Linked DNA regions of Homo sapiens: regions 1 and 3 are each linked to region 2. Evidence: fine-mapped QTL for protein levels in blood plasma. A gene starts in region 2. Each other region holds a variant in brackets. All regions are shown on one strand. Distances are between the middles of the regions.

Region 1 (10,483 bases), 45 kb after region 2:
AAGAGAGAGTGGGAAAAAAATCCACTCTGTCTCACAGTGTTTCGCTACAATAAATAATGCTTGCACACAGTCCATTGTCCATACGGCCAATAATTTCCTTAGGATAGGTCCCTACTTGGGGTATTGCTGTCAAAGTGGGTATATGTTTAAGGCTTAATAGAAAGACTGCACCAATTTGCAGGGAATGATAGGATTTTTCATTATTCTGCCTCTCTGCATGGCTTGTCACTCTCAGGCCCACAGGAAGGTCTTGCTGGCTGTGAGGAGTGAAGAGTACAGGGCTAAGGGAAGTAGCTCTGCAGGGTCTGCAGCCTGTGTCCCCTGGGTGATGGCAACGAAGGCAGAAAGCCCCCTGACCACTCCCTGTGCAAGGACTTGGTCCATAAAGACTGGGATCTCCACCCCAACCCTTGATCTCCAACTGCCAGATGGTCAGAAAACAACCACCCAGCTGTGTCCATCTCCTAGGACTGCTCAAAGTACCTCAAACCGGGTGGCTTTAAATAACAATTTATTTTCTCACAGCTCGGAGGATGGAAGTCCAAAAAAGGCACGAGCAAAGGCTGCACTCCCTCTAGAGGCTGTGGGAAAGGATCCTTCTTTACCTCTTCCAGCTTCTGGGGGTGCCAGCCACCCCTTTGTTTCTTGGCTTGTAGGCTCATTGCTAAAATCTGCGCTCCCATCGACACCCAACCTTCTTCCCTACATGTCTGTTTCTGTGTCCAGATCTCCCTCTTCTTCTAAGGACACTAATCATATTGGTCCCCAACCCAATACAACCTCATCTTAGTTTGATTACACCTACCAAGAGTTTATTTCCAAATAGGTTCTGGGTGGACATGAGTTTGCAGGGGACACTATCCTGCAAAAGTGACCTGCTCTAAGCAACACCCTGTGCACTCAGGGCTAAGAGAGCATGTCACCTGGAGCTCACATGTCCCTCCTTCTGGGTCATGCTCTGAGGACCTGGGACTGGAATTCTCTGGTGTGTTCGAGTTCGCTCGAAGTCATTCCCCGTGAAAAATGTTGAAAGGAAGAAGGGATTCCGGACCTCCTCTTCTCCAGCCTTGTCTCAGGGAACCTCCCCTGCATGAGGAAGAGGAAGGATTTTCCTTCCTCCTCTGGGTACAGGAGGCACATTCCCTGGCGTGGAGCACACTTGCCTTCTGCCTTACCGTGTGGCCATGGGCAGTCGCTGATGGCACCGTGCAGGACGGGACGGGCCTCTGCACCGGAGGTCCAGCCTCGGGTCTCCTGACCCTGGCACTGCCACAAGCTGTGTGACCTTGGGCAGGGGGCCTTGCCCCTGTGAGCCTCGGGGGCCTGACCACTTGACACATCAATGGTCACCAGTCATTCGTTGGTCACCAAGAAAACCCATGTCTACTTTGGGGCTCTTTAAAGGTTCTGTTGGGGGCTCTGGGTTGAGAATTTCTGGGCTGGACCTTCAGAGCTCCATTGGCGCCGATCAGTTTTTGGACCTTGGGAGTGACCACAGCTCCGGCTCCCACACTGCCCTCCTGCTCCACTCAGCACAGCTCTTGTCCTGCTCAGGCATTGATACCGGTTTTCTGTGTCTGACTCCACACTAAACTGTGACCTTTCTGGGGGCACATATATGAATCCCTCTGTATCATTCACTAGCCTAAATTTTAGAATTACATGGACTTGCATTTCAAACCCATTCTGCTCTTTTTAAAAATTCCATGAGTTTGGGCAAATTTCTAAACCTCTTTGAGCACCAGTTTTCTTATCTGTAAAGTGGGGATCCTAAGGCCATCCTCTGAGTAACGTGGAGACCCTTAGATGAGATGATGTATTAAGCACCCACCATTCCTCTTGAGAAGGGGTGAGTCCCTGTGTATGGTACTATAACAGCAGTTATTGGTGAGGTCTGTGGAATAAATGGCTTAGTCCACACTGACCTTTTTTTTTTTTTCCCATAAAGCTGAGTGCTGAAATAGGAGTTTTGTCACAGAGCTCGTTCCGATCGGTTGAATGGGTACAGAGGTGCTGTCTGTTAATATACGCTCAAGGAAAGTGCTGGCACTGGATTCCGAGGCATTGCTAAGTGTCTCAGGTTCCTGAGACCAAGGCACCTGCCCTAGTCCCCATGTGTTAGAGGGCCCCACTCTGTCCCTCTGGCCGCTTCCCAACCCACAAGGTGAGGCATCCTGAGGGCTAAGAGAACATGGCACCTGGAGCTCACATGTCCCTCCTTCTGGGTCATGCTCTGGGGACCTGGGACTGGAATTCCCTTCCCCAAAGCCTCAGCTTTCTTCCAGGTCCTTTGGGCTGTTCTGGGAGAGGGAAACCACGGTGCTGGCCAGAGGGTGACAAAGGGAGGGTTGCTTGCCGGCATTAGGTGGGGATTAGAGTTGGCCGTGCAGGCTGGGATGCCCCCCAAGCACGGGCATGAGGCCTGTGTGGAAAGGGTCTGCTCGAGGATGGGATTGGGGGTGTGTGTGGGGTGGGGGTCTCCTTACAAGGCAGGGATCTGGACCAGGTTCCAGGTAGTCGTGCATATTCCTGGCAACCCCCAGGTCTGGCTCGCGTCAAAGTGCAGACATAGGTGGTTTAATGGCAAAGAGCGTGTGGGTGTCCCTGCCTCAGCCCCTGGGGCTGGCATGCAGTTGGCAGGAGGATGTGCTAGACCCCTTCCCCTCCTTGGTGGCTCTGCACCTGCCCTGGCTGCAAGGACTCACTCCCAGGTGGCCAGTGGGTGGCATTCCCCCAGCGTTTCCAGGCTCTCAGCCCCTTTCTCACCACAAGGAGCCACGGTGGGCTGGCCACATTACTGAGCCTCCCTAGGTCTCTGCTCAGGCCCTGGTGGACCTGCCCAAGGCCAGCCTGCTTGTTCATGCTTAGCAGCACCATCAGCAAGGCCAGCTTAGTCCAGCTCCAGAACTTTCTGCAACAGCCCTTCTTTCTGTGGATGGGCAGTGGCTCCCCTCAGGTCCCACCCCACTGCAACCTGCAGGGCCTCTTCAGGAGCCAGACCCATGTCCCTGGCCCCTTCTGCACCCGGGCAGGCTGTAGGGGAGGACTCAGACCTGAGACACTGCCAGGCAGGGGCTTTTCCCATCCAGCTCCGGGTACCGTGGGCGTGAGTTTCCACGGGGAAAAGCCCTCTTGATGGGATGCGGTTGGGGTGGAAGGAGGACAGGAGGTGAGTCAGGCACTGCTGCTGCTCTCCGATCTGCCTGCCCTGCTTCCAGGCTGAGTTATGCGGCAACAGTGGCCTGATTCCTGAGCTACTCAATCCATAGTGTCCCAAAGACCCCCATGCTCCCACATGGTAGCTGCCAACCTCACCCAACTCCACCCTTACGGTTACAGTAATAATCATATTTCCCATCCAATAGGTTACTTGAGCCTCACCCACTGCTCTGAGGGAGACACTATTATCCCCATTCACAGATGAGAAGACTGAGGTCCAACGAGGTTGATAGTTCTCATAGGAGAAAATAAATAGTTGCTGATTAAATTTAAAGGGCACTGGTGGTTAAGGTCAAAGCTGGGCTGACTCTGGTTTCCTGGTCAAGAGCTCCGTCTCACTAATCCCTGCTGTTCCCCTGTGATTGCCACCTGGCTTCTACTGAGGAAATACAGATTAGCTGGAAAGCCAAGCTCTGAGCCACGTGGGCTCTGCTCATGTGTGATCAAGACAGGCCTGGGCCTCAGGTCCCCTGAAGCTCACTGTTCTGTCCACCACACCACCAGCCTCTGAGCAAGAAGTAGATAGGGAAACTGAGGCACCCCGAAGTGAGGGACAAGGAGGGTGGCTTCCCACAAAGAATACTAGCACCAAGCCAATTGTGGGCTCCACCCGCTTGTGCTTCGTTCATTCAGCCTGGCCATGTGGGTTTTTATAATATCTGCTTTTGCAATATAAACTATGCACATCGATATACACAAACGGCCATAACACCACATTGCAAATTACAAAGCAAAACGCATGAACTCTCAAGGATGGATTTTTAAATTTCCTTGATAAGGCTGGGGCTTATGGAAAAGTGCCCATTCCCGTCTGTAGTCCATTGCTTTCAATTTAACTAGGCGTTTGGGGCTGGAATCGTTTTTTCCTCCCCTTTCAGTCTTGGAGCGAGTCCCACAGCTAGGCTTCCTGCGCTCAGCTGTTTGTTTTTCTTCCTTGGAGAGGGACTGGGGAATGTTACCCACCAAGCCCCGTGGGACTGGCCAGTTTGAAGAGCTCTCCAGGCCCCTAGCTGCTCAAATCCCAAACACATGGAACCGGGCCACACCCTTCGGCCCAGTGGACAGAAAGGCTGGCCTGGCGGTCCTGACCTGCCGGTGGAACGGCCCAGCCCCAGGCCCTGCCGCCTTTGTATTTGATGGAAGAGAAGATAGGGGAAGGGGAAGGAAGGCTCCAGCTCGTGGCTCCCAGCCAGGTCCTGAGACTTCAGTTGTGAAAGCTGAGCTGGGGCCTCCCTGCCTCCCTCCCAGAGGGCCCATATATCTTGTGGCCTTGGGTGTGGCCAAGGCTGAGTCTGAGTAATTGCTTGCCTGGAGCAGCCAGACCCTCCCCTAA[G/A]TCACCGCCCTCACCCTGGGGAGGAGGCCTGCAACCCAGCCCGAGGCCAAATCTGTCCTCCACCCCCGACCCCACCCAGCTCCCCTCCTCAGTTACCTTTTAGAATTTTCTTTATTCTGGTGAAATACACAGAACATAATATTTATCATTTTAACCATTTTTAAGTGTAAGGGTCAGTGACATTAAGCATGTTTACATTGCCGTGCAACCATCGCCACCACCCACTAGCAGAACTCTTCATATCTCCAAGCTGAAACTGCATCCACTAGACCTGAACTCCTCATTCCCCCAGCCCCTGGCAACCCCCATTCTACTTTCTGTCTCTATGGATTTGTCTTCTCTTGGGGACCTCATATCAGTGGAATCAGACAGTGTTTGTCTATCATGTTTTTATTTTATCTTTTCACTCTGTCACCTAGACTGGAGTACAGTGGCGTGATCTCAGCTCACTGCAACCTCTGCCTCCCGGGTTCAAGCAATTCTCCTGCCTCAGTCTCCCAAGTAGCTGGGATCACAGGCATGTGCCACCATGCCTGACTTTTTTTTTTTTTTTTTTTTAGTAGAGACACGGTTTCGCCATGTTCAGGCTGGTCTCGGACTTGGGCCTCCCAAAGTGCTGGGATTACAGGCGTGAGCCTTTATGACTGGTTTATTTCACTTAGCGTAATGTTCTCAAAGTTCATCCAGGTTGAAGCAGGGGTCAGAATTTCCTTCCTTTGTAAGGCTAAATACTATTTCATTGCTTGGCTAGACCACATTCTGCTTATCCATCCATCTGTCAGTGGACATTTGGGTTGCTCCCATCTTTCGGCTGCTGTGAATAATACTGCTATGAACATGGGTGTTCAGGTATCTGTTCAAGCCCTTGCTTTCAATTCTTTTGGGCTTGTACCCAGAAGCAGAATCTCTTGCCCTTTGGATTTTTAAGCCAATTTGCCCTTGGAAGTCCAACAGAGGCTGGGTGCAGTCGCTCATGCCTGTAATCCCAGCACTTTGGGAGCCCAAGGCAGGTGGATCACCTGAGGTCAGGAGTTCGAGACCAGCCTGGCCAACACGGCGAAACCCTGTCTCTACTAAAAATACAAAAGGTAGCCGGACGTGGTAGTGCATACCTATAGTCCCAGCTCCTCGGGAGACTGAAGTAGGAGAATCACTTGAACTTGGGAGGCAGAGGTTGCAGTGATCCAAAGCCACACTACTGCACTCCAGCCTGGGTGACAGAGCGAGACTCCCTCTCAAAAAAAAAAAAAAAGCCCAACAGGATATTCTGACCACCTGGGATCTCTGTTCGCTAGGAGAGACAGAAGAAACTGAAGGAGAACAGTGAAAAAAAACAAAAGCTAAGGGGATCATGAATTCAGTCATTCTGCAGGATCTCAGTTCAACGAGTTTGCTAAAACAGAAATCAGGGAGGGGTGGGTTGTTATTTGAAATGCAGATGCCCAAGGCCCACCCCTTCCTAAATCAGAAAGGGGGGCATTCCACTCACTGGGATGAAGAGGGCAAAGGAGGCCTCGTCAGATTCTCTCTGGCCCTGGGCACACTTGGTGGTGCCTACAATGACCCATAATCCACTGTGCCTGGGGCTCCTGGTCCTACCCTTAGATAGAGCCAAATTAGCCCTGGCTGGCTGGGTTGTCTCTTACAGTCTGTATTAGTTTGCTGAGGCTGCCATAACAAAATACCGCAGCCTGCATGGCTTAAACAATAGATGTAGTTACTTTCTCTCAGGAAGGCTGCAAGTCCAAGATCAAGGTGCTAACAGGGCTGGTTTCCTTTGAGTCCTCTCTCTATCCGTGGTTGATTGAATTTGAGAATGTGAAACCAGCAAATACAGGAGGTCCAATGAAGGGACCTGAGCATCTGAGGATTTTCTGTGGGGGATCCTGGAGCCAATCCCTTCAGAGAAGAAGGCTGCACTCATAATTCCACTCCTCTAAAGTCAGTTGTTTTCACGAATCCTGGTTTTCTTTTAATCCTTTGTGTGTATGTGCTTGCTTCCTGTGATAGCGTATGCATGTCCCACATTGTTACATGGCAGACTTCATGGTTGTCATTTTTAGAGCTTCATTAAAGTTCATCTGGTTAATGTACCATGATTTAATTGTTCCTAATTGCTCATCCACGACTTCTCTAGGTTTTCACTGCTACAAATAAGAGAGTGATAAATTTCTCACTGCTGTAGCATTTCCCTTCTTTTGGGTTACTTCTTAAATTCCCAGGAGAGAGACTATTTTGCAAAGGATGTGAACATTTTTATGGCTATTGATACTTTTTGCCAAATTGCCTTCCAAAAATATTTGCACAGTCATCAGCAATGTTTAAACACACTAGCGTTCACCACGGTCTTGCCAGCATGATGTAGCACTGTTCCATTACTTTTAGAGATTTCCTTTTTTAAAATTTGCATTTCTTTGATAGCTAATAATCTCATCAAGCTTTCCATACATTTGATTATTCATTGTGTCATCTCTTAAGGAGACTGGCTGTTTAAGCCTTTTGCCTGGTTACTATGTGAGGTCAAATCAGGCATTTATAAAGTGTCTAATACATACTCACTACCATGGGGTGCTATAGGGGGACCAAGGAAGTATAAGACCTGGTTCTTATCTTCCAGAAGGCTATGATTGACACTCACATCTTATTTACTTGTTGTTGATTTCTTTGTACCCAACCTGCTGCTTTGCACAACCTGTATGCTTCATAAATCTTTATGTAGTTAAATCCCGGATGACATGTTTGTTGTCTTTGTGGTTCACAGAGATCAGCACTCAATTTAAAGGAATGCGGAATCAGAACCCAAAATAAGGCTGAAACCCAGAGAGATAGCTTAGACCTGGTCAATTAATATGGACACACATGAAGTAGTGCCCCACAAATGGGGAAGCCACGGCTTGACATCAGTTTTTAAAGCAAGGTTGAGGGTTTGAGTTTGGCAGGATGCAGTCTATGAGTCAGTGTGTGACATGCCTGCCACCAAAAGCTATCGTGATCAAAGTTACGTTCATAGAGAATAAGGGAGGCACCAGTATTATTTGGCTCCATGCAGGTTAGACAACTCCTCAGTGTTTCCTTTTTTTTTTTTCAATTTATTATTATTTTTTTACAGTCTCATTCCCATCACCCAGGCTGGAGTGCAGTGGGCACAATCACAGCTCACTGCAGCCTCTTCTTCCTGAACTCAGATGATCCTCCTACCTCAGCCTCCTGAGTAGCTGGCACTACAGGCCTATACCACCACACCTGGCTAATTTTTTGTATTTTTAGTAGAGATGGTTTTGCCATGTTGCCCAGGCTGGTCTTGAGCTCCTGGGTTCAAGTCATCCACCTGCCTCAGTTTCCCAGAGTACTGGGATTACAAGCATGAGTCACAGCGCCTGACCTCAATTATTTTTTTTTGAGACAGGCTCTCGCTCTGTCGCCCAGACGAGTGCAGTGGCGTGATCTCGGCTCACTGCAACCTCTGCCTCCCAGGTTCAAATGATTCTCCCACCTCAGCCTCCCAAGTATCTGGGATTGCAGGCAACTGCCACCATGCCCAGCTACTTTTTTTTTTTTTTTCTATTTTTACAAAATGGAGTTTCACCATGTTGGCCAGGCTGGTCTCAAACTCCTGACCTCAGGTGATCCATCCACCTTGGCCTCCCAAAGTGCTAGGATTACAGGCATGAGCCACCATGCCTGGTCTTAATTTTTTATTTTTTAAAAAATGTTAAACCTACAGAGAAGTTGGAAGCTATAAAGAGTGCTATATACCCTTCATTTTAATATTGTTAACATTTTATGCCATTTGCGTGTACCTGCTCTCTCTTCTCGCCCCACGTTTGTTATTACCATTTTTAATTTTTGTGGAACCATTTGACAGTGAGTTGCAAACTTCACCCCTAAATATGTTAGTGTGTATTTACAAGAACAAGGACATTGTCTTATATCACCACTATACAATTACTGAATTCAAGAAATCTAATGCTGATTATAAATACAGTATATCCATATTTAATTTTCTTCCGTTGCTCCAAGAATGTCCTTTATAACCATTTTTAAAACTCCTGATGCAGGATCCAATCCAGAATATACATGTGGTTTTCATGGCTCCATAGTCTTTTCTAGATGGGTTCCTTGCCTTTCACTGTATTTCATGACATGGACATTTTAAAGAATGCAGGCCAGTTGCTTGCTATCCTGTCCTTTAACTTGGGTTTGTTTAATTGTTTTCCCATGATTGACGTAGGTTAAACCTTCTTGGCAGTAACACTTTCTAAGTCATTTGAGGAGGTGGATTGTGTCAATTTGTTCCTGTACTGGTAATGGTAAATTTGGTTAAGGTAAATTTGGTCAGAATAATCTACTGTAAAGCTATCTTTTATTCCCTCTGATTAAGAAGTGATCTGTGGGGAGACACTCTGAGGCTGTGTAAATACACTGATTGCCAGCAATCCTTCACTCCATGATTTTAGCATCCACTTACAATTCTTGCCCGAGTCAGTTATTACAAAGGTGGTCATCAAATGTGGCTTTTCTAACCCTCTTCATTGCTGTTTTCCTCTCTGACCGCTGCAATGTAAGGTGGCTGCAGACAGTGGTGTGCTGGTCAGCTCTGATTACGTGCGTCTTTTCCTAACTCCGTAGTCAATGATGTCATGTTGGTAGCTTGAAGTCGGTCATAGTGGGATATTTACACCTCAAACATTGGCAAGCACCACAGCTTAGGCTTCTCCCCAACCCCTTGGAGAACCAGTTGTTAAACATTTATCAGCATACCGCTGGATGCATTTAAGCTAAAACACATTCAGGAAAGAATGACTTTGGCAATAAAGGGACTTTATAATTATTTTTAGTCAGAGTCTCACTCCCGTCACCCAGGCTGGAGTGCAGTGCTCACTGCAGCCTCCATTTCCCAGGCTCAGGTGATCCTCCCACCTCAGCCTCCGGAATAGCTAGGACTACAGGCTCACACCACCATGCCTGGTTTGTAAAAACACAAGCTTTTTGTATTTTTAGTAGAGACAGGGTTTTGCCATGTTGGCAAAGGAAACCTTAAGGAAAGGGGATCCATCTTCAAATATTTAGAGGGCTATCTTGTGGGGTACCCTCATTAGTTAGGATGCAACCTCCTAACACACCCCACCCTTCCAACCTCTTGGTGCTTCTATGTTGGATGGCTCCTTCAAGGCATCACAGGACTGCACCTCTCCCACCACTGGCTTCCTATCAAGGAGCCAGCAGGGAACAGAATGGAACACAGAGGGTGCAGGTCACCTTGAGCAGGAAGAGGGATGCTTCTTACTCTCATCTGAGAAGAAGCAGTGTGTTTGCAGAACTATGGTGAGGTGCAGAGGAGGTGGCATTCATGCTAAATGATGCAGAGGAGATGGTGTTCTTGCTAAATGGCTTTCATGTTCTTGGTAAAGTGGATATAGTTACTTCCAAGAATGAGAGAGGCAAAGCAGGCTTCAGCATTAAGAAGCATGAAGATGCTTTGAGATAGCAGCAAAGGGCATTTTTTTTTCCAGCCCTCCAACCCACTCAAGGCAGCCCAACTCCAGGATGTTCAAGCAGCACAAGAAAGGGCCAAGTCAGCGTAACACTTCTGCAGTACCGTGCAGCCCGAGAGTTAAAGTGGGGAAGGAAGTGGACGCAGGTGCTCAGAGTTCACCACTGATGTATACAAAAGTTGATAAACTCTCCCAGAGGCCGGGGCATCGGAAGGCAGCTCTGGATCCAGGCATGGCAGTGATCCGGGCATGGCCAGAGGAGGGCAGGTGGAGAAGGTCAAGGGGCTGGGATCAACCTGCCAGTTGAAGCAATGGGCAGCTTTCCTAACAGTGAGAGAGCTGGCAGGCTTGGTGGTGGTGGTTGGAAAGTGAGAGAACAGCGTTCTGGATCTCTTTGGAAAGTATCAAGCAACTACCTAGTTCTAGGGAGAGCAGT
Region 2 (10,483 bases):
AGATCATGTTCATTATATGATTAAATGTTACTTTTTAAAAATGATAAATACAAATTTTGAGTTTTGAAAGATTACATACTTTTTTTTTTTTAAGACAGAGTCTCACTCTGTCACCCAGGCTGGAGTGCAGTGGCATAATCTCAGCCCACTGCAACCTCTGCTTCCAGAGTTCAAGTGATTCTCCTGCCTCAGCCTCCCAAATAGCTGGGATTACAGGCGTGAGCCACCATGCTCAGCTAATTTTTGTATTTTTAGTAGAGTCAGGGTTTCACCATCTTGACCATGGCTGGTCTCCAACTCCTGGCCTCAAGTGATCTGCCTGCTTCGGCCTCCCAAAGTGCTGGGATTACAGGCGTGAGCCACCGCACCCAGCTGATTACATACTTCTCACCAAGATATTTTTACAAAGCTGAACAATAATAAAAGATAAACACTGGTTTGTAAACGATGGACAAAAATTGCTTTTGAAAAGCACTTATATTTCATGTGAACCAGATTAAAAACTAACCAAAAAGAAAATACTAAAGGTAAACATTTTCGAGTGTATTTTTGCAGAGTAGGCCACAGATAAAGAAATAGCAAGGTCCCTGGGGTAGTCAAATTCAAAGAGACAGAAAGGAGAATGAGTGGTGCCAGGGGCTGGAGGACAGGGGACGGGGAGTTGTTGAATGAGTGGAGTTTCAGTATTGAAAGATGAAAAGAGTTCTGGAGACTGGTTGAACATCAATTCAAATGTACTTAACACTACTGAACTATGTATTTAAAAACAGTTAGGGCTGAGCATGGTGACTCATACCTGTGATCGCAGCACTTTAGGAAGCTGAGGCGGGTGGATCATTTGAGTTTGAGACCAGCCTGGCCAACATGGCGAACCCCCCGTCTCTACTAAAAATGCAAAAATTAGCTGGGCGTGGTGGTTCACCCCTGTAATCCCAGCTACTTGGGAGGCTGAGGCAGGAGAATTGCTTAAGCCCAGGAGGTGGAGGTTGCAGTGAGCTGAGATCACGCCACTGCACTCCAGCCTGGGCCACAGAGTAAGACTCTGTCTCAATAAATAAATAAATAAATAAATAAATAAACAAACAAACAAACAAATAAATAAGGGTTAGGATGGCAAATTTTATGCAATGTGTGTTTTACCACAATTAATTTTTTTAAAAAGTTTAAACAAGAAGTAGCAAACTATAATGAAGAAATATGTAAAAAAAAAAAAAAAAAGAAGCAAAAATATGAACAGTACAGGATCGATGTGTTCCCTGGGAGAAGATAGAGACAAAAAAGAAGGGCGTGGCCTCAGCTCCACTCTGTGCTCAGGGTGAGACCCAGGCTTCCCTCTCCCCTGACCTCCTCTCTCTGGCCACTGCATCCTCTGTGCTCTGGCCACTGGGCCTTTCTCTGCCCCTCCGGCATGTCCAGTGTGTTTCCATACTGAGGCCTCTGAGCCTTCTGTTCCCTGTGCCTGATGCTGTTTCCTCAGATTGTCACACAACCAATATTTCTGGAGCGTGTACTGTGCGCCAGGCACCCTGCTAGGCATTTTGAAGCACTCAAGTGAGCTGCCTTCCTGGAGCTGCTGTTCTAGCAGACAGTAAGCAAAACCAAGCAGGGTGAGGGGGACTAAGAGTGGCAAGGGGTGTGTAGCAATTTTATTTATTTATTTATTTGAGATCAGGTCTCGCTTTATCACCCAGGCTGGAGTGCAGTGGTGCAATCCTGGCTCACTGCAGCTTCGGCCTGCCTGGTTCAAGTGATCCTCCCACCTCGGCCTCCCGAGTAGCTGGGACTACAGGTGCCTGCTACTGCACCCAGCTAATTTTTGTATTTTCGGTAGAGACAGGTTTTCACCATGTTGACCAGGCTGGTCTCAAACTCCTGACCTTAAGTGATCCTCCCGCTTTGGCCTCCCAAAGTGCTGGGATTGTAGGCGTGAGCCACCATGCCTGGCCTGTGGGTAGGAATCATTAGGCTCAGCAGCATGAACAAAGTGACATTTGAGAAAAGATGGGAATGAGGCAAAGAAGTTAGTTGTGCAAACATCTGGTGGAACCACTCCAGGCAGATGGAACAGCCAACCCCAAGCCATAGGGCAGGACCTGCTGGTGTAACGGGCCCAGAGTTCAAGTCAACAATCAGACTTAATGACATAATTAAAGGTGCTCAACTTCATGAGTCATCAGGAAAATGCAAATTAAAACCACAATATGGCACCTCTACAATGCACCAGAGCAGGGAAAATGGAATAAACATCACTGACACTGACAAGGACAAGGAATAAGTGTAGTTTCATCCCCTGCTGGATATAAACTAGTACAACCACCATAGGAAACTCTTTGGCAGTGTCTACCAAAGCTGAACACAGGGCCATCCTATGCCCTGGCGATTCCATGCCCAGGTATATGCCCAAGAGAATGGCATTCATATGTTCCCCAGAAGACACACACAAGAATGTTCACAGCAGCACCATTTATCAGAGTCAAAAATGGAGTCTGGACATGGTGGCTCACACCTGTAATCCCAGCACTTTGGCTGGTGGAGGCGGGAGGATTGCTCGAGGTCAGAAGTTTGAGACCAGCCTGGGCAAGATAGCGAGACCTCATCTCTACAAAGGATTTTAAAAAATTAGCTGGGTGTGGTGGCATGTGCTTGTAGCCCCAGCTACTCAGGAGGTTGAGGTGGGAGGATCACTTGAGCCTGGGAGGTCGAGGCTGCAGTGAGCTATGATTGTGCCACTGTACTCCGACCTGGGTGATAAAGTGACATCCTACCTCTAGAAAAAACAAACTGAAAAAGCTTGGTCCCTCCATTTCAAATACTGAGATTTCATAGATGAAACTACTTCAGAAGTCTATTGAACCCTCCTCTATCAAGGCAATCACATTTTCATTCAGCTTCTGGGGGGGAAATGCCTACTACAAATGCCATCCGTGATTGAATGGAAGCAAATCATTTTGGGGACAATTCTGATTTTAGTGGCAAGGAGGTATCTGAGCTAAGAGCTGCCGGGAGGACTCTCACCCATGAGAAAACCAGCCCTCCAGGTCATTCCTATACTTCACTGTCAAATCTCCCTTTGCCTGTTCCGGCAGCTTTATTCATAATAGACAAAGATTGGAAACATCCCAAACCCCCTTCAGCAGGAGACCGATATACACATTGTGTGTGGTATGTGCCTATCACGCAATAGGACTCAGTGCTTCGAACAGGGCGGGAGGTGGGAGGACAAGCGAGGATGAGCGTGGAGTCCTCACATGGCAGAAAGGCAGAGGATCAAGCCAGCCCACTCCTGCAAGCCCTTTCTACGGCATCCCAAATACATTCATGACTCAAATACCCCCACAAAGGCCCCACCTCCCAACACTGTTGCAATAAAGATTACATTTCCAATGCTTGAATTTAGGGGGACACTAACTACCACATTTCTTGCTAACATACACATCTCTTTAGGGAAGGTCTTTGGACATCACTTTTTTTTTTAAGACAGGATCTTGTTCTGTTACCCAGTCTGGGGTGCAGTGGTGCGATCACAGCTCACTGCAGCCTCAAACTCCTGGGCTCAGTTGATCCTCCCATCTCAGCCTCCCAAGCACCTGGGACTACAGGTGTGCATCACCACGCCCAGCTATTGTTTGTATTTTTTTTTTTTTGTAGAGACAGGGTTTTGTCATGTTGCCCAGGCTGGTTGGACATCATATTTTGAGCACATTTCTGGCTGTTTTTAAGATTACATTCCTAGGAATGTTGGTGAATTGATGGGGGACAAAAACATTTGTTTCCCCTTGAGAGGCAATGGTACAGGGGAGGGGTTAAGAGCATAGACCCTAGGATCACATTGCCTAGGGTTGAATACTAGCTCTGCCACTTACTGGCTACAAGACCCTGGACAAGTCACTTCCTCTCTGTCTCTGTAAATGAGCATAATAGCAGCACCTGCCTCAGGGGGTTGTTGAATAGGTTCAATGAGCTAATATATAAGAAACACATGGTATATGCTATAAAGTGTTGTCTTCTTTTCCTTCTCCTCCTCCGCTCCCTGGGATTATTACCATAATGATACAATTATCATTTGTTCTTTCTGTAAAATGGAGTTTGATGTTGGAGCTGCTTCCTAGGCAGTCAGGCAGGGCAGTCACTGAGAATGAGGACGGCGTTTCTGACTCAGCTGTGGGCGGGCAGCTGCAGTGACACAGCTGAGTCTTGGCAAACACTTTTCATGTACGAAGCCTGACCCTGGAGTCTTGAGGCTGAACTTTTCACCAACAAACAGGAATGCATTCATGAATGTTACCTCTGGGTGCTGTCCTCTGGAAGCCATCTGCATAGCCTAACTCTGCCACCCTGGCTTGGACAATTATGGTGATTTCTCTGATGCCCCTGATACTACCACCTCAATCTGAATTTAGCAGCTCCCTTCACATATGGTTAGATTGCCTTTAAAGAGATTTTTTTTTTTTTTAGAGATGGGGTCTCACTATGTTGCCCAGGCTGGTCTTGAACTTGTGGGTGGGCTCAAGCAATCCTCCCACCTCAGCCTCCCAAAGTGCTGGGACCACAGGTGTGAGTCACTGCACCCGGCCTAGATGTCCTTTTTCAAACGTAAGCAATCATGCTCAGGTTTAGGATTATTCGTGCCTGGGTCCCCCTCCCATACTGAATTGCTATGGACAGCCAGCTAGTCTTCATCCTGCACCCCCCAGCCCCTGTGCAGCGTTAATGAGCCAGAAACGCTGATTCTGCTGCTGAGTTCCGTGGAACCCCCTGGGGCATTTTCCTGACTACCCCCAGTGTGGCCAATCCGTGTCCACTGAGGATGAATGTGACTCCAGGAAAATACATGAAGTAACTCTGTGCCAAGCTTGGTGAATGAATTGAGCCATGCCAATTCTGTGCTATAAATAAATTTACAAGACTGGTTTTCTTGCGTGGCTCATAAGCCAGGTCTAGCTGCCACTCCCCCAGAAGTCTTCCAAAAAGTATTTTGAGCAGGACCTTTAGACTGGGGTGTTGGAGTCCCAAGGCCAAGGCCGACCGCGCTGCTCTGGGCCCAGCGGGCGTTCCCACACGGGGCTGTAATGCCACGATTGGCCGCAGGAGGGGGGCCGTATTCCAGACCCCATTGCAGAAGCCTCCGCAACTGCTCCAAGAACTTTATTTTATACGGACTGGCGGCGAGAGCAGCTGCAGTTCGCATCTCAGGCAGTACCTAGAGGAGCTGCCGGTGCCTCCTCAGAACATCTCCTGATCGCTACCCAGGACCAGGCACCAAGGACAGGGAGTCCCAGGCGCACACCCCCCATTCTGGGTCCCCCAGGCCCAGACCCCCACTCTGCCACAGGTTGCATCTTGACCTGGTCCTCCTGCAGAAGTGGCCCCTGTGGTCCTGCTCTGAGACTCGTCCCTGGGCGCCCCTGCAGCCCCTTTCTATGACTCCATCTGGATTTGGCTGGCTGTGGGGACGCGGTCCGAGGGGCGGCCTGGCTCTCAGCGTGGTGGCAGCCAGCTCTCTGGCCACCATGGCAAATGCTGAGATCTGAGGGGACAAGGCTCTACAGCCTCAGCCAGGGGCACTCAGGTGAGTCTTGGTACTAATTTTGTCCTATCTCCTGGGCATGCTGTCTCAAAGACAGCTGGAGGAGACTGGAGTGAACTGGATGGAGAGGAGTACAGAGTTTGGGAAACTTCAGACCTAGAGCCTGGAGGTGCCTTCTCCAGGTGGGAAGGTCCCCGCCTGCTGGGCCCGCAGATATCTGCCGGGCCCTCATCCAACTGCCTGGGCTGGAGAGAATGTGAGCCTGCATTTGGGGTGCCAGAGGGAAGCTATTGCCTTGGTGGCTACTCCACCTGACTCATGTCACAGCTCAAGAGCCTACTCAGGGTGCAGATGGCTCAGGTGACAGCTCCTCTCCATGGCTTCGTGTGTGTGCATGTGTGTGTGTGCATGTGTGTGTGTGCATGTGTGTGTGTGTGCATGTGTGTGTGTGTGCATGTCTGTGCGTGTGCATGTGCCAGTGGTGGGATATATGTGGGGAGAGGTTATTTCTAAAATATCTGTCTCTGTCCAGCTTTGGGTTATGATTTAGCTTAACTAAGTACAGTTAGAGGAGGAAAACATTTAAAACCTCCTTAGTGATTCTCTCTTTGGAGAAGGGCCACACTCATGTGATTTTTTTCCTTGGTTTTGATGAGTTTAAAGTGAGGTAATCCAAAGAAAAGCCATAAACCCTGCAGAGTTAGATGCGGGTACCCAGAGAAACTGACTTGGTAGCAGCAAATGAGGCTCGTGCTACCCACTCAGAGGAGGAATTAATGGAGTCCTTCTGATCTCCAGAGAAGGATTGAAGAGCCAGGGTCCTGATATCAGCCCTAGAGTGCATTCGCGATTGCCTTTTACAAAGGGAACTTCAAACAGCTTTGTTTCTGAGACTGGCTAGGTAGGAGGGAGGCCTTGGGAACCTGGACACCCCCTTACCTGGCTGCCAGGCAGAGTCAGAAGATGCTGGGGGATGCTTTTTCTCATCAGACTGCCACCAGCTCCCCTGAGTGACCTTGTTCATAAAGTCATGCCACATGCATTATCTCACGGGAGGCTCACAGTGATCCTGGGTGACCAGCAGCTACCCACCTTCCCATCTTAGAGGTCATGTACCTGAGGCTGAATGAGGTCAGGTAATTGAGCCAAGTTCCCCCAAGAAACCAATACGCAGAGGAGCTAGGATGGGAGCCCTTGGCTTCTGTGTTCCCTGCATTCCTGCAGAGAGCCAGGCCTGCAGGGCGCAGATGGCCCCAGGGCACAGGGCTGCAGGGCACAGATGGCTGAGGGCTTTTCCAGCTCTAAAATGCAGAATCTAGAAGCAGATCCCTGGCTCTGAACCTGCCCTTCTAAGTGCCTTGGGTGAAATTGTCTGGAAGTAAATCATGATTGCCAAGAGGTTAGTGGAGAGGGTGACACCTCCCTGTTAGAGCAAGACCTCCCTCTTTGAGTTGCAAGTTGAGGTCCAGTCTCCTTGGGCTTCATCCACAGGTCACTGTGGCTTCCACATCTCGCCCATGTGCTTCAAGCTCTCAGAGCCCTGCCTCAGTCCCAGGATCCCCACCTGCTGGAGTACACTGGCTGGCAGTCTGAGGTGGGATTCTCTTCTCTGCCTGATCTGGGGCCCAGAAAGTGGTCACCAAAGGGGCTGACATGCAATTCCCAAACAAAGCAACCCTGCAGCTGAGCCAGTGCCCTGTGTAGGAAAACTGTGCCCGGGGCCTCTTCCCGCTCTGATATCCATTCCTTCCTTTGCCTCTTTGGTCTGGGATGGCTTATGTTTAAAATGGGAGGGACGGAATGCAAATGCCATCAGCCTACCCCCAACACAGTGCTCCTGGGAGGAGCACTTGCCATCAGTTTCATCTTCTAGAGCACAGACTTGGTCCAAAGACAGTAAGATCCATGATCTGAGGGTCCCAATGCCTGCTTCCTCCCCCAAGAAAGAAAAACAGCCCCCAAGAAACCTTGGGCAGACAGAACATGCGTAGGTTTCAATTCCAAGTAACAAACATGAGTAGAGTTGTCTGAGCTTTTCCAAGCCCTGTGCACTCACATCTGGCCCCGCTCGGCCCCAGTCCCTCTCCCCAGCAGATCCCCTGGGCTCCTGCTGGACCAGCTGAGGGGTGGGGAGGAGGAAGGAGACAGCTGCCCTTCACACACATTCTGGCTAACAAGCCGTGCATTCCAGCCCCGTCCCAGGAGCTGACCAGAAGAGGAGGAAGGTGGAAATGGCAGTGGGGCCTCACACCTCCACTCCCCAGGGGCAGCGCCCTGTCTGGCTCTGTGTGGCCTCTGGGAAGCAGAGGCTATTGCCTTTGGCAGAGGGAGGGTTATTGCAGGCAAAAGAGACATTGGCCTCCTGCTTCACAGCCCCGCAAGGAGTGAAGCCAGAGGGAGGGCTGCCGCACACAGTGCTCATGAAATGAGGGAGGGTCCCTTGCAACTTAGCAGTGCTGGAGCTGCCCGCGGCCCCACCTAGAGGCCCTGCCTGGGTGGAGGCATTGGGTGGAGGGCCGGAATTGGGAGCCCAGTGAACTGGACACCACTGCAGCACAGGGAAGCCAGAGTGGGTGGTGTCTGGGGCAGGGAGGAGAGATCCTGGCAGAGCCGAGGACCACCCCCTGTTCCATCCCTCCCATAGGCTGGAGGAGAGGCCCGCAGATACTGGGAGCCCCAAGGCTGTGTGTGTGCACATGCGTGTGTGTGCCCGTTATGGGGGATGTACAGAAGGGCTAACAGCAGAGGCGTCCAGCCCTCCTGGGTCATTAGAAGGACATGTATACAGTGACTGGTCAGTTCTGGTCTCTTCTCAGCCCAAATGTCAGAGGTCTGTGGAGGCCAAGCTCAAGTCATGAAAATAGGGGCTTCAGCTGGGTGCAGTGGCTCACACCTGTAATCTCAGCACTTTGGGAGGCTGAGGCCAGTGGAGCGCTTGACTCCAGGAGTTCCAGACCAGCCTGGCCAACATGGTGAAACCCCATCTCTGCAAAAAATTAGCTGGACATGGTGGCTTGTGCCTGTAATCCCAGCTACTCAGGAGGATGAGTTGGGAGGATCACTTGAGCCCGGGAGGCGGAGGTTGCAGTGAGCCAAGACTGCACCACTGCCATCCAGCCTGGGCAACAGAGTGAGACCCTGTCTCAAAAAAAAAAAAAAAAAAAAAAAAGAAAGAAAGAAACAGAAAAAAAAAAAGAAGAAAGAAAATACGGAATTCTTGTTTTGCTCTGCTGCAGAGCAACCCCGCCAGCCGCCTTCCCTGATTATGTCTATTTATGAAAGTTGCCACGCCTCCTTGCCCACCCTCCCTCTGAAGAGAAACTGATTGACTGATCTCTCAATCAACAGGCATTGTCCCCCCACTGCCACCTGCCAGCCCTGCATCCTCTCCTCCCAGCCTCCTCTGGGTTGAAGGGTTGAGTTTGCTCCATACTGGGCCTGGGACCCATCCTCATGGGGCTTTTATCTTCTAAAGGATGCTGTTCTTTGGTTAAATGTCCAGATAGTTAAAGAGAATCAGAAGCAAAGGTCAAGATAAACTCATGGCTGGAACCTTGATGAAAGTAGAGAATAATTTGTAAAGTCACTGAGCATTTATGTGACAAAAACAATATCAAGAAATTGATGTATATACTTTGTAATTTGGCTTAAAAAACAGATTCTTCTCATTACATAAGGAATGTAAATGCATCATAGAAAACCCAGAAAATCTGAAAGCAAAAAGGAATATTAAATCCCCACAATCCCTTCCAGCCAGAGTCCTGTAATACATTTCTCACCCGGAGCCATCATAGCGTCTTACATCCACACGCACCTTACGCGTGCATGTCTTACAAAATGGGATCGTGTTGTACACATTGTTGCGTCAACAGGCTGTTTCCTTTCAAAGAGCATAGGATTCTCCTAAGTCAATGTATATGCTCCTGGACCATCATGGCGTAGACCCAGAGACCCAATGAGTCAGCCTCTGGGGGCCATGCAGACAGAAGCCCTCCCTGGCCTAAAGCTGTCCAGATGCTTAGTGCCTGGGTGTCCCTTCAGAGGCTCCCTGCTCCTCGGGCCCCACCACAGTAGATGAATCCCTGCTGTGGTCCTACTGAGCCAAGCTCCTTCCAACATGCCAGCCCCGTTGGATTTGGGAGCAGTCCTGGTCTGCTCAGCTTTGTTTGCAAGTGGACTCTGTACCCCCTCTGAATGCCCCTTCATATCTAGTTTCCTTCCTTCATTTCCAACACAGAACAGAAGCTCAAGTCTCTCTGGCATGCCCCGGGCTTCTGAGGGCTCAGAGCCTGCTCTCAGGTTACCTTTTGAGTCAGCAGGGTTCCCTCCTCCTGGCCCCACCCAGTGTAACCCACAGTGACCCCAGCTCAGGATTCCAGCCCCACTGAGAGTTGTTGAAAGGAATGGACACATCCCACCATCAGAAAGGCCCAAGGGCCTTGGTCTTCTGAAGCCCTGAGGAAGCTGGGAGTGGGGGCATCACGGCCCCAAGGACCTGGAGGATGGCACCTGGGTCCTGGTGATGAGCAGAGGGTCCCGGTGTTCAGGCTTAGGGTCAGGGGTGGGCACCTTGTTCTATCCATTTGCTTCTGTTTCCACCTACAGTTGATTCTCTGTCTCTCTCCCGGCCTTCGTCCTCCCTCTCCTCCCCTCTTGCCTTCTCTGCAGCTGTTGCAGGGTGTGATGGAGAACAAAGCTATGTACCTACACACCGTCAGCGACTGTGACACCAGCTCCATCTGTGAGGATTCCTTTGATGGCAGGAGCCTGTCCAAGCTGAACCTGTGTGAGGATGGTGAGTGCAGCTGGCTCAGACTTGGGGCACAAGATCTGGCCTGGGGGTGGGGAAGGAGCCCTACCACCACCCAACCTTGGCATTGCCTTTAAGTGCTTGTGACCTCCTCATGTAATAGTGCATATATTGAACTTTATGCTTTAAAAGGTCTTCTCCATGGG
Region 3 (10,483 bases), 140 kb after region 2:
CTACTTGGGAGGCTCAGTTGGGTGGATCCTTTGAGCCTAGGAGTTCAAGGCTGCAGTGAGCTATGACTACACCACCGCACTCTAACCTGGGTGAGATGACTGAGACCCTGTCTCTAAAAAAAACAAGATAGTCCTGGCGTGGTAGCTCACACCTGTAATTCCAGCACTTTGGGAGGCCGAGGCAGGTGAATTACTTGAGGCCGGGAGTTCGAGACCAGCCTGATCAACATGGCAAAGCCCATATCTACTGAAAATACCAAAATTAGCCAAGCGTGGTGACGTGCGCCTGTATTCCCAGCTACTCAGGAGGCTGAGACATGAGAATTGCTTTAACCCAGGAGGCAGAGGTTGCAGTGAACTGAGATCGAGCCACTATACTCCAGCCTGGGTGACAGAGTGAGACTCTGTCTCAAAAAAAAATTAAAAGATTAAAAAATATATAAAGTAAATAAATAATAAATAAGATAAAATATGAAATATAGTTAAACATAAGCTTATATGAGCCAGCACCCCAACTCTAGGCATTTACCCTAGAGGAATGAAAATCTCTGTTCACATGAAAGCCTGTCCATGAAACTTTATAGCAGTGTTATTCATAAATGCCAAAACAAAGGGGTACACCCAAATGACACACTACTGCTTAGGAATGAAAAGAAATGAACTATTGACACATGCAAGAGCACAGATGAATCTCAAATATGCTGTGCTAAGTGAGAGAAGCCAGGCCCCAAGGATTACCCACTGTATGATTCCACATTGGGACGTTCTTGAAAAGGTAAGAGTATAGAGGCCAAGATGATACCAGTATTGCCAGGTTTTAGGAGTAAGGAGAAGATTTGACTACCAAGGACGACCTGGGGAAGTTTTTGGAAGATGAAATTATCATGTGTCCTAATAGCAGTAGTGATTATGTATGCACAATTGTTCAAAATTCTTAGAAATGTATATTCTCCAAATTAAAAAAAAAAAATTCTGAGTTCTGGCCGGGCGCAGTGGCTGATGCCTGTAATCCCAGCACTTTGGGAGGCCGAGGCGGGTGGATCACCTGAGGTCAGGAGTTCGAGACCAGCCTGGCCAGCATGGAAAAACCTCGTCTCTACTAAAAATACAAAAATTAGCTGGGCAGGCTCATTACCTGTACTCCTAGCTGTTTGGGTCACTGAGGCAAAAGAATTCTTTGCACCTGGGAGGCAGAGGTTGCAGTGAGCCAAGATCAGCCACTGTACTCCAGCCTGGGCGACAGAGCAAGAGTCTGCCTCAAAAAAAAAAAAAAAAAAAAATCCTGAATTCTACTGTGAGTTAAAAAATTAAAATACAGTAAGTCCCCAGTGAAATCAGGATGTCCCTCCACCCATCCCTACCATCACACTGTGGTCCTCCACCCTCCAGCTCAGTGAACGTTGCAACTCACCCAGCTGGGAGGTGGCAGCTCCCTCTCTCGCTACTCCAGGGAGTGCCTCACTCTTCCCATTCGCAGCTCCCCACCTCACTTAGACTTTCTCAGCCAGCCCTTGATACCAGCTCTCTTGGACTTCTGTACCTTCCTAGCTAGTCTCATCATTTCTACCCTTGCCTACTTTTAGCCAATGTTCCATGTAGCAGCCAGAAAGGATTTTAAAAACACAAATTAGGTCATTACATTCTTTTGCTGAAAACTTTTCAGCAAATTCCCATTGCTCTCAGGATGAAATTCAGAGTCTTTAGGGCTGGTCTCCTCCTTCTCACTCTGGCCTCACCGGTGCCTCCACTGTGTTCACCTTCACCCTAGCATGCTGGCCTTCCATTTCCTCAGAAGCATTGAGCATCACACTCCGTCCAGCCCCAGAGCCTTTGACCCATTCTTCTTTTGGTCTAGCAGTTCTTCTCTTCTGCCACTCTGCTATGTTGATTAACTACCACTTTTCTGCCAGATTTCAGCTCCAATGTTCCTTCCTTCTTGCAGATTTCTAGCAGTTCCCAGGCTAGGGCAGGTGCCTTTTTTAAAAAATGTTTTCATATTACCTGGAATCTTTTTTCAGGGCCCTTATAGCAATTTGTAACAAGGCTGAAAATGTCCTGTCCACCTAAGACAGTAGTTCTCAAATTGTGGTCTCTAGACTAACAGCATCAGTGTCTCCTGGGAACTTGTTAGAAATGCACAATTTCAGACCCCGATCCAGACTTTCTGAATCAGAAACTCTGGGGAGGGGTTCCTGAAGCCTGCATTTCAACAAGCTCTTTAGGTGATTCTGAAACACGCTGAAGGTGAAGAACAACCATCCTAGTATATAACTGATCGTTCTATGTCCATGGTAATGAACAACCACAAGAACTGGGTTTAAACCTGTTTAATCAATCAAGGATAAGTTAATTGGATAACTATGCTTCTTTAAGCCAATTATTTTTAATTAGTGATTAACCATCTACATTGTCATCATCAACAATAAAAATAAACCCTTACATTCATATAGGGTAATCAATTTAAGACAGCTTTACAAGTTACCTGATTTGGTTTGCATATTTGTTCGGTGAGATCATTAAGGCAGTCATTATTATCCCCGTTATGTAATGAAAAAAATGACCCACCGGAGGTTAGGTAAATTGTCTCAAGTCACACAGCTGGTAAATGACAAAATTAAGGTAAAAGATATCCAACCTCTAGTCTAGCACCCTATCTGTTGCACCAAGCTTTCAACATGTGTAAGCAATCATTACTGTAGAAGTCAGCTTCATGGATCTTATAGCAGTGTGCAATAAAAGTAATTTAGAACTGACCTCCTTTTAGCAGAAATGTAAAACCTTTTCACCTCCCACATTAACCCGTTTTGTTATCCCCCACTCCACACTTAGTGATAGTAAAGGATGGCATCATCCATCCCTCTGAGCGTGGAGCCTCCACCCTGCAAATAAGGATGAGCACAGCCTCTCTGTTCTCAGTGTGATGCGCCTGGTGAAGAACCTTCACCTGCCAGTGGGGGCTGGGTGGAAGAAGAGAACATCAGGCCTCTTGGCTGGACTCACCTGGAATTTAGCCCTGGAATTTACAACACACAGCTGATGAAAAATTCTGTGGCCTGCCCCTCCCAGGAACATACCATACCCGAAAGTGGGAGCCGACGGGAGAGGGAGCCTTGCGTTCTTGGCTTTACCTGCCTAGGCTGGAGTTTCTGCCACAGTCAACCCTGGGTAAGGAAGGAGTTACGGTTCAAATGCCATGGACTCTCAATGTTCTTACCAAATTTTACTCCATTTTCTTGAATAAATGTTTATTTATTTGCTATATACTCTTAGGACAATTTCCAGAGACTTTAAATACTGAGGTTTGAAATATATTTTTCACCAGTTATGCTGGCTTTGCTGGAGACTGTGGAGCACCTCGTGTGGCCATTCTGGAAGTGGAAATGTAAATGTTTGTTGTTTTTAAGCTGCTAAGATTGTGGTAATTTCTTATGCGGCATAGGAAAGTACTGTGTGGGGAACTAGTGCTCTACAAAATTTACTTTAAGAAACACTGATATAAGCTAATTAAGCATTGAAATAAGTTGAGAATTAAATTAATTTGAAATGATCATATTGAATGATTAATGGAAAATATACTGATTGTACTTATTTCAACAGTGAAGTATTTTTAGATATGATTTTGTTTTTGTTTTTTTTAGACGGAGTTTTCGCTCTTGTCGCCCAGGCTGGAGTTCAGTGGCACTATCTTGGCTCACTGCTACCTCCACCTCCCCGGGTTCAAGCAATTCTCCTGCCTCAGCCTCCCCAGTAGCTGGGATTACAGGCACGCACCCACCACACCCGGCTAATTTTGAATTTTTAATAGAGAGGGGGTTTCACCATGTTGGCCAGGCTGGTCTTGAACTCCTGACCTCAGGTGATCCACCCACCTCGGCCTCCCAAAGTGCTGGGATTACATGCATGGGCCGCCACACCAGGCCCTATGTATTATTTTGCAAGAGCATACTAATCTCATTCAGTGGCCAAAGCACCACCACCACCTAGTGGCAGCAGGTATTAATTACAAGCAAATATATTTTGGAAAGTTAAGCCAGGTTAAGTGAGCCAGACTGCACATTTTGGATGAAGCAGAGACTTAATTCCTATTAATATATAAAAATCAAAATAATCAAATACTCATTACCAAAATATTTAATAAACATTCCTTTAAATAGATAGCTATACTAGTATATTTACTCTTTTTATATTTAAGTACTTGTCAAAGAAACTTGGAGAAGTAGAATTGAAAGTAAAAGTACGTACATTGAGTCAGCCGGGTGTGGTGGCTCATGCCTGTAATCTCAACACTTTGGGAGGCTGACAAGGGCAGATAACTTGAGCCCAGGAGTTTAAGATCAGTCCGGGCAACATGGCAAAACCCTGTCTCTACAAAAAATATGCATATATAAATTAGCCAGGCATGGTGGTGTGTGCCTGTAGCCCCAGCTACTTTGGAGGCAGAGGAGGAAGAATTGTTTGAGCCTGGCTGGTCAAGGCTGCAGTGAGCCATAATCATGCCACTGCACTCCAGCCTAGGTAAGAGAGTGAGACCCTGTCTCAAAAAAAAAAAAAAAAAAGGTACATACATTGAGGTTGGGTGCAATGGCTCACACCTATAATCCCACCACTTTGGGAGGCCAAGTTGGGAGGATCACTTGAGCCTGGGAGTTTGAGACCAGCCTGGGCAACATAGTGAGACCCCGTCTCTACAAAAAAATTTTTAAAAATTAGCTGGGAAAGCTGGGCATGGTGGTGCACACTTGTGGTCCTAGCTACTTGAGAAGCTGAGGTGGGAGGATTGCTTGAGCCCAGGAGTTGAAGGCTGCAGTGAGCTACAGTCGTACCACTGCACTTCAGACTGGGTGACAGAGTGAGAACTTATCTCTGAAAAGAAAAAATTAAAAAACAAAAAAGTATATATATACATTGACATTTAGCCATAAATGAAGATTAAACACTTTCAAAATATATGAATGGGGAAGTAGGATTGGGTATTAGAAGCCAGATTAACACAACAGTTTTCAGGAATACAGCTACTTTGTAAAATAAAGAATACCTATGTTCAGTATTAACATAATTTAGGATTAAAATCCCAGGATACTTTTCTGTTAGCATAATATATCTCTTAGAAATTCTCTGGTACTTGAAGAGCAGTACAGCTGCTCTGGACTTCATCCAACTTAAGCTAATATCTCTATAATTCTTTATACAGCTAATAAAGTCTCTGGAGTTTTCTCACTGTGATTAAATGCTAGCAAAGACCTTGCCAGAGCCACTTAGCAAAGAACTGGCATGGTAGGCTTCTAGTAACTGAGTGGCCACAGGCAGTCATAGCAAAGATGAGAATCAAGTTCTGTGGAAAATATGTCACATCTGAAAAGAGTCGGTGCTGATTTCTGGCATTGCAGATTCTGCAGCCAAGGCGTCCCCTGTGCAGTGTTTGCTGAAGGTAAATGGAATGTATCACTGCTGCCTCGTTTTCCAGTTTTAATTTATGCTGCTCCTCTAGAGAACTATAAGAGTTTTTATTTTTCTCCCTTTACAAGAAAAATCAAGTAACTCACTCACCCCACAAATTATTTGGAATATGAAGAATCAGTGATGCAAAGCAAAACGTTTTCCATACAAATACTGTCAATGTCCCCTTTCCCTTTAGAATAGAACATGTTTTGATAAATTATAATTCTGGCAAAGTCTTCTCCTCTGGACTTTAGAGTGGGGAGTAGGAAGTCAGATTCCATCAAGCCAAAAGGAGATCTGGGTTGCTGCTATTCCATGTCTGATATTCACAGACGGTTGGGAATGGTCATTTCCTAAGGTTTTCTTCCGTTTGAGAAGGCCCGCTGGCCTCAGCAGTCAGCACGTTCAGGGCTGGATCAGCTGTGAGGGTTTCTGTTGCAGCTGACACCTGACTGTTAACTTCACCTGAGAACCAGAGCTCTGGGTGTCGTTTTGGCAACTAGTCAGTCCATAGCAAGGTTAATAACCAAGAACGGAGTCAGAAAGCCCAGATCAGCCAGACACCTGCTGAATCTACAGCTCTTCATGGGAGCATAGCCTTGGGATCTCAGACCTAAGTGACAAAGTGATTGCCAGGGAATATGCAAGGCGAAGTCAGAAGTGAAAAGAAACATGTCTTGGAACAGCTTATCCCAGCATCTCCTGGTCTGACCCATCTTGTCACAAGCAAGGTCAAGAGAGGGTAACCCTCTTGATACACTCTCTCTTTACATTTCAAAAATATTTACTATGGACTAACAAAACCTATAAGTATACCAGGAATACAAAGATAAATGAGAGACTTTCAAAGCTAAAAATTGTAGATTGGACATAAATACCTTCTTTCACTCCCTCCTAAGACCTTAGTAAAACAAGAATAAAACAATTTTGTCTCTTATGGACATAAACCTACA[A/G]CAATGGGCTATCAGAAGCAGAGACAAAAGTAAACTTTTTTTTTTTTTCTTTTTAGAGACCAGGTCTAGTTCTGTTGCCCAGGCTGGAGTGCAGTGGTGCAATCATAGCTCACTGCCAACTCAACCTCCCAGACTCAAGCAATCCTCCCACCTCAGCCTCCTGAGTAGCTGGGACTACAGGCATGTACCACCAGTCCTGGCTAATTTTTAAATTTTTTGTAGAGAAGGAGTCTTGTTATGTTACCCAGGCTGGTTTCAAAATTCTGGGCTCAACCAAGTTTCTCACCTCAGCCTCCCAAAGGGCTGGGATCACAGGCGTGAGCCACCGTGCCCGGCCCAACAGCCTTTTTGAAACTGGAAAGCTGACGCACAGCAGTGAACGACTTAGCAGACAAGAGAAGGCTGAGTGTTAAGCAGGAAGCAGGAAGGCCACAGGATTCCCAAAAAGCTTAGAACTCAGTGACAGGAGCTACTTTTGGAAGTGGAGGTGAACGTGTGGTTAAAACTAGGCAATTGGTTAAAAATCAATTTAAAAAACAGGCCTAGAAACAGTGACCACACCTCAAGCAATGATTATCCCTAGCACTCAGATTATGTTCTTGAAATACCATTTTCTGCTTTCAAAAGAAAGACATGAGGGCTTCTTGAAGAAATGGCTGATACCAAGCCTGCAGTGAAAAATGCACATGATGAGCCTGGAACATGTTGTCATATGAGTTAAAAAGGAAGCTATGAAAAACTATGAAGGCCATGTGAACAAGATCAGGGGCCAGCTTGGAAAGGTTCCCATGGCCAAACACATTACAGCGAATGTCAGTGAGGATGAGAGTTGCAATGAATTAAAATCCATCAAATCTATTGAAATCCATGTATTCAAAATGATGCCATTTTTAAAACCTAAGTGATCTCCTTTGGAGGATGATTTGGAACTAATTCATTATTTTGAAAACTAGTAAATACATGGAAAAAAATTGAAGCATTAGCTAAGTGTGGTGGCACGTGCCTGTAGTTCCAGCTACTCCAGAGACTGAGGCACGAGAATTGCTTGAACCCAGGAGATGGAGGCTGCAGTGAGCCAGGATCATGCCACTGCACTCTAGCCTGAGCGACAGTGAGACCCTGTCTCAACAACAAAAACAAAAGCATATAAATGGCATAACTCTGTCACAAAATAGTAGTGGAAAGGAAATGAATCAAGAAAGAACTGACAGAATTAAAATATCATTTTGTAGCCTTCAATAAATTAATGGATCTAGTAAATTTAAGCATCAATAACTACTAATTTAAAAAGGCAGACAACCAGACATTCTGTACACCTTGATGATAAAAAGTGTACTATCATCTATTGTTTAATTCATGAATCCAGGTGGAATATATATATATATCTCTAAAGTGTTCACTGTATATTCTTTCAACTTTTCTAATTTTTTAATTTAAAAAATGTTTAATTTACTCTTTATATTATTATGTCAATACTATTCACAGGTGAACTATGTAGTGAATATAATTATTTTTCATTTCTTGTACATTTACTCACCATTGAGTTAATAGTCATCAATTTTTTGTTTTGTTTTCTGCACGCTTACTTAATTCAACCCAAAATGCTTTACCATTATCTAAATCTTCATTCAAGCATTCAGATACATCAAGTACCTTATCTATTTCATCTCCTATGGTTATATACTGATTTTTTAGTTTTAGGTATTATCTATTGAAACTTCCCACTAAGGAAGAGAAGGAGTTATTACTTTCCTCCATCACCCTAATATACATATGCACCCTTCCAGAACTCCATTTTCCAAATATTTTTAGTTAGGAAAATAGCAATGACCAAGAGTACAGGCAATGCTCAGAACCAAACAGGCCTGCCCTAACAAAGCATCACTCCAAGCCTAATAGTATGATCTCTGGCCAAATGAGATTAAATTATAAATCACTAATTCTAAGATACTGAAAAAATGCCCTCAAATATTTGGAAATTAAAAATTATATTTATGTTCTAGCAAACCTACTCTGAGTATGTATCCAAAGGAATTAAAGTCAATGAAGCGATATCTGCACTCTGATGTTGATTGCAGCATTATTCATAATAGCCAAGATATGGAATCAACCTAAGGGTCCACTGATGAATGAATGGATAAAGAAAAGGTGGTAATATATACACAATTGAATACTATTCAGCCATAGAAAAGAAGGAAATCCTGTCATTTGCAACAAGATAGATGAACGTGGAAGATGTTATGCTGAGTGAAATGAGCCAGGTGAAAAAAGACAAATACTGCATGATGTCACTTATATGTTGAAGCTAAAAAAGTTGAACTCCTAGAAGTAGAGAGTAGAATGATGGTTATGAGAGGCTGAGAGGGTGGGGGTGGGAGAGAAGGAAAGCGAAGTAGTTGGCCAAAAGGTATAAAGTTTCAGTTAGACAAGAGAAATACATTTTGAGATCTATTGCACAGCAGGGTGACTGTAGTCAATATTAATGTATTGTATCCTCTAAAAGAGTAAACTTCAGATGTTTTGCCACAAAAAATGATAAGTAAATGAGGTGCTGCCTATGTTTATTAATTTATTCCATGTTGTATAATACATATATCAAAATATCACTTTGTATCCCATACATGTATACAATTATGACAATTAAACCTATTAATTTTAAAATTATATTTATAAGTAACTCTGCATCAAAAAATCACAAGAGAAATTAGAAAATAGTTTGAACTAAAATATAATGAAAATGCAATATGCCAAAATTTGTAAAGCCACTAAAGCAATACTTCAAAGGAATCTATAGCTTTAAATGCTCATATTATAAAAGAAAAGAGGTTTAAATCAATTATCCAAATCTCCACTGTAAGAAGCTGGTGACAGAGGGAAGGGAAGCAAATTAAATCCAAAACAAATAGAAGGAAGAAAATAACAAGGATAAAACTATCTTTCGTCACAGATGACATAGTTGTCTATGTAGAAAATCTGTAAAAATCTTAAAAAAAAAAAAAAAAAAAAGGCCAGGTGCAGTGGCTCACGCCTGTAATCCCAGCACTTTGGGAGGCCGAGGCGGGCGGATCACCTGAGGCCGGGAGTTCGAGACCAACCTGACCAACATGGAGAAACTGTCTCTACTAAAAATACAAAATTAGCTGGGCATGGTGGTGGGTGCCTGTAATCCCAGCTACTCAGGAGGCTGAGGCAGGAGAATTGCTTGAACCCAGAAGGTGGTGGTTGCGGTGAGCTGAGATAGTGCCACTGTACTCCAGCCTGGGCAAAAAGAGTGAAACTCCGTCTCAAAAAAAAAAAAAAAACAACCAAACTCCTGGAACCAAGAAGGAATTATAGCAAGATTTCAAGACACAAGGTTAATATACAAAAATCAATTGCTTTCCTATATACCAGCAATGAACAAGTGGAATTTGAAGTTAAAAACACAGTATCATTTACATTAGCACTCTCCCAAATGAAATAAATTCTGTATAAGTCTAAAAAATATATACAAGATCTATATAGGGAAAACTACAACACACATGAAATAAAGAACTAAATAAATGGAGAGATATTCCATGTTCATGGAAAGGAAGACTCAATATTGCCAAGATGTCAGTTCTTCCCAACTTTATAAATTCAATACAATCTCAATCACAATTTTAGCAAGTTATGTTGTAGATCTCAACAAACTTATTCTAAAATTTACATGGAGAGGCAAAAGACCAGAACAGTCAACATAATAGACTGAAAAGACAAAATTGGAAGACTGACAATACCTAACTTTTTTTTTTTTTTTTTTTTTTTTGAGACAGAGTCTCACTCTGTCACCCAGGCTGGAGTGCAGTGGTGCAATTTCGGCTCACTGCAACCACCACCTCCCAGGTTCAAGCAATTCTCCTGCCTCAGTCTCCTGAGTGGCTGGAACTACAGGCACGTGCCACCACACCCAGCTAATTTTTATATTTTTAGTAGAGACGGGGTTTCGCCATGTTGGCTAGGCTGGTCTCGAACTCCTGACTTCAGATGATCTGCCTGCCTTGGCCTCCCAAAATGCTGGGATTACAGGAGTGAGCCAGCATGCCTGGCCAACACCACCTAACTTCGATACT

Direction of the effects. Positions count from the first base shown, and alleles are read on the strand shown. Strength reflects both the effect of a copy and how common the allele is.
For the plasma level of the protein whose gene starts at base 5,153 in region 2, allele A in region 1 goes with a lower level than allele G (strong association).
In carriers of allele A in region 3, the plasma level of the protein whose gene starts at base 5,153 in region 2 tends to be lower than with G alone (weak association).

Evidence for each region. A credible set is the group of variants that fine-mapping cannot tell apart. PIP is the chance, under the fine-mapping model, that this variant and not a neighbour inherited with it causes the effect. Protein levels are from antibody-based Olink assays in UK Biobank. Linkage for the fine-mapping came from a reference panel and not from the study's own genotypes, which makes the PIPs less certain.
Region 1: its variant is the best candidate, but not a certain one, in a credible set for the plasma level of the SCARA5 protein (UK Biobank, PIP 0.79).
Region 3: its variant is the best candidate, but not a certain one, in a credible set for the plasma level of the SCARA5 protein (UK Biobank, PIP 0.61).

The regions. Positions count from the first base shown.
Region 1 is chr8:27,942,336-27,952,818 of GRCh38, reverse strand. All of the region lies in intron 3 of SCARA5 (scavenger receptor class A member 5), which reads left to right. Among named protein-coding and RNA genes, the nearest start is that of SCARA5, 45 kb to the left of the region's middle. RefSeq lists enhancers at 2,450-2,949, 2,950-3,451. The variant G/A (reference allele first, on the strand shown) is at 4,553.
Region 2 is chr8:27,987,343-27,997,825 of GRCh38, reverse strand. SCARA5 (scavenger receptor class A member 5) reads left to right here and starts at 5,153. Exons shown (of 9, transcript NM_173833.6): 1 at 5,153-5,569; 2 at 10,196-10,322. The coding sequence starts at 10,211.
Region 3 is chr8:27,849,160-27,859,642 of GRCh38, reverse strand. No RefSeq gene overlaps it. Among named protein-coding and RNA genes, the nearest start is that of PBK, 17 kb to the right of the region's middle. The variant A/G (reference allele first, on the strand shown) is at 6,393.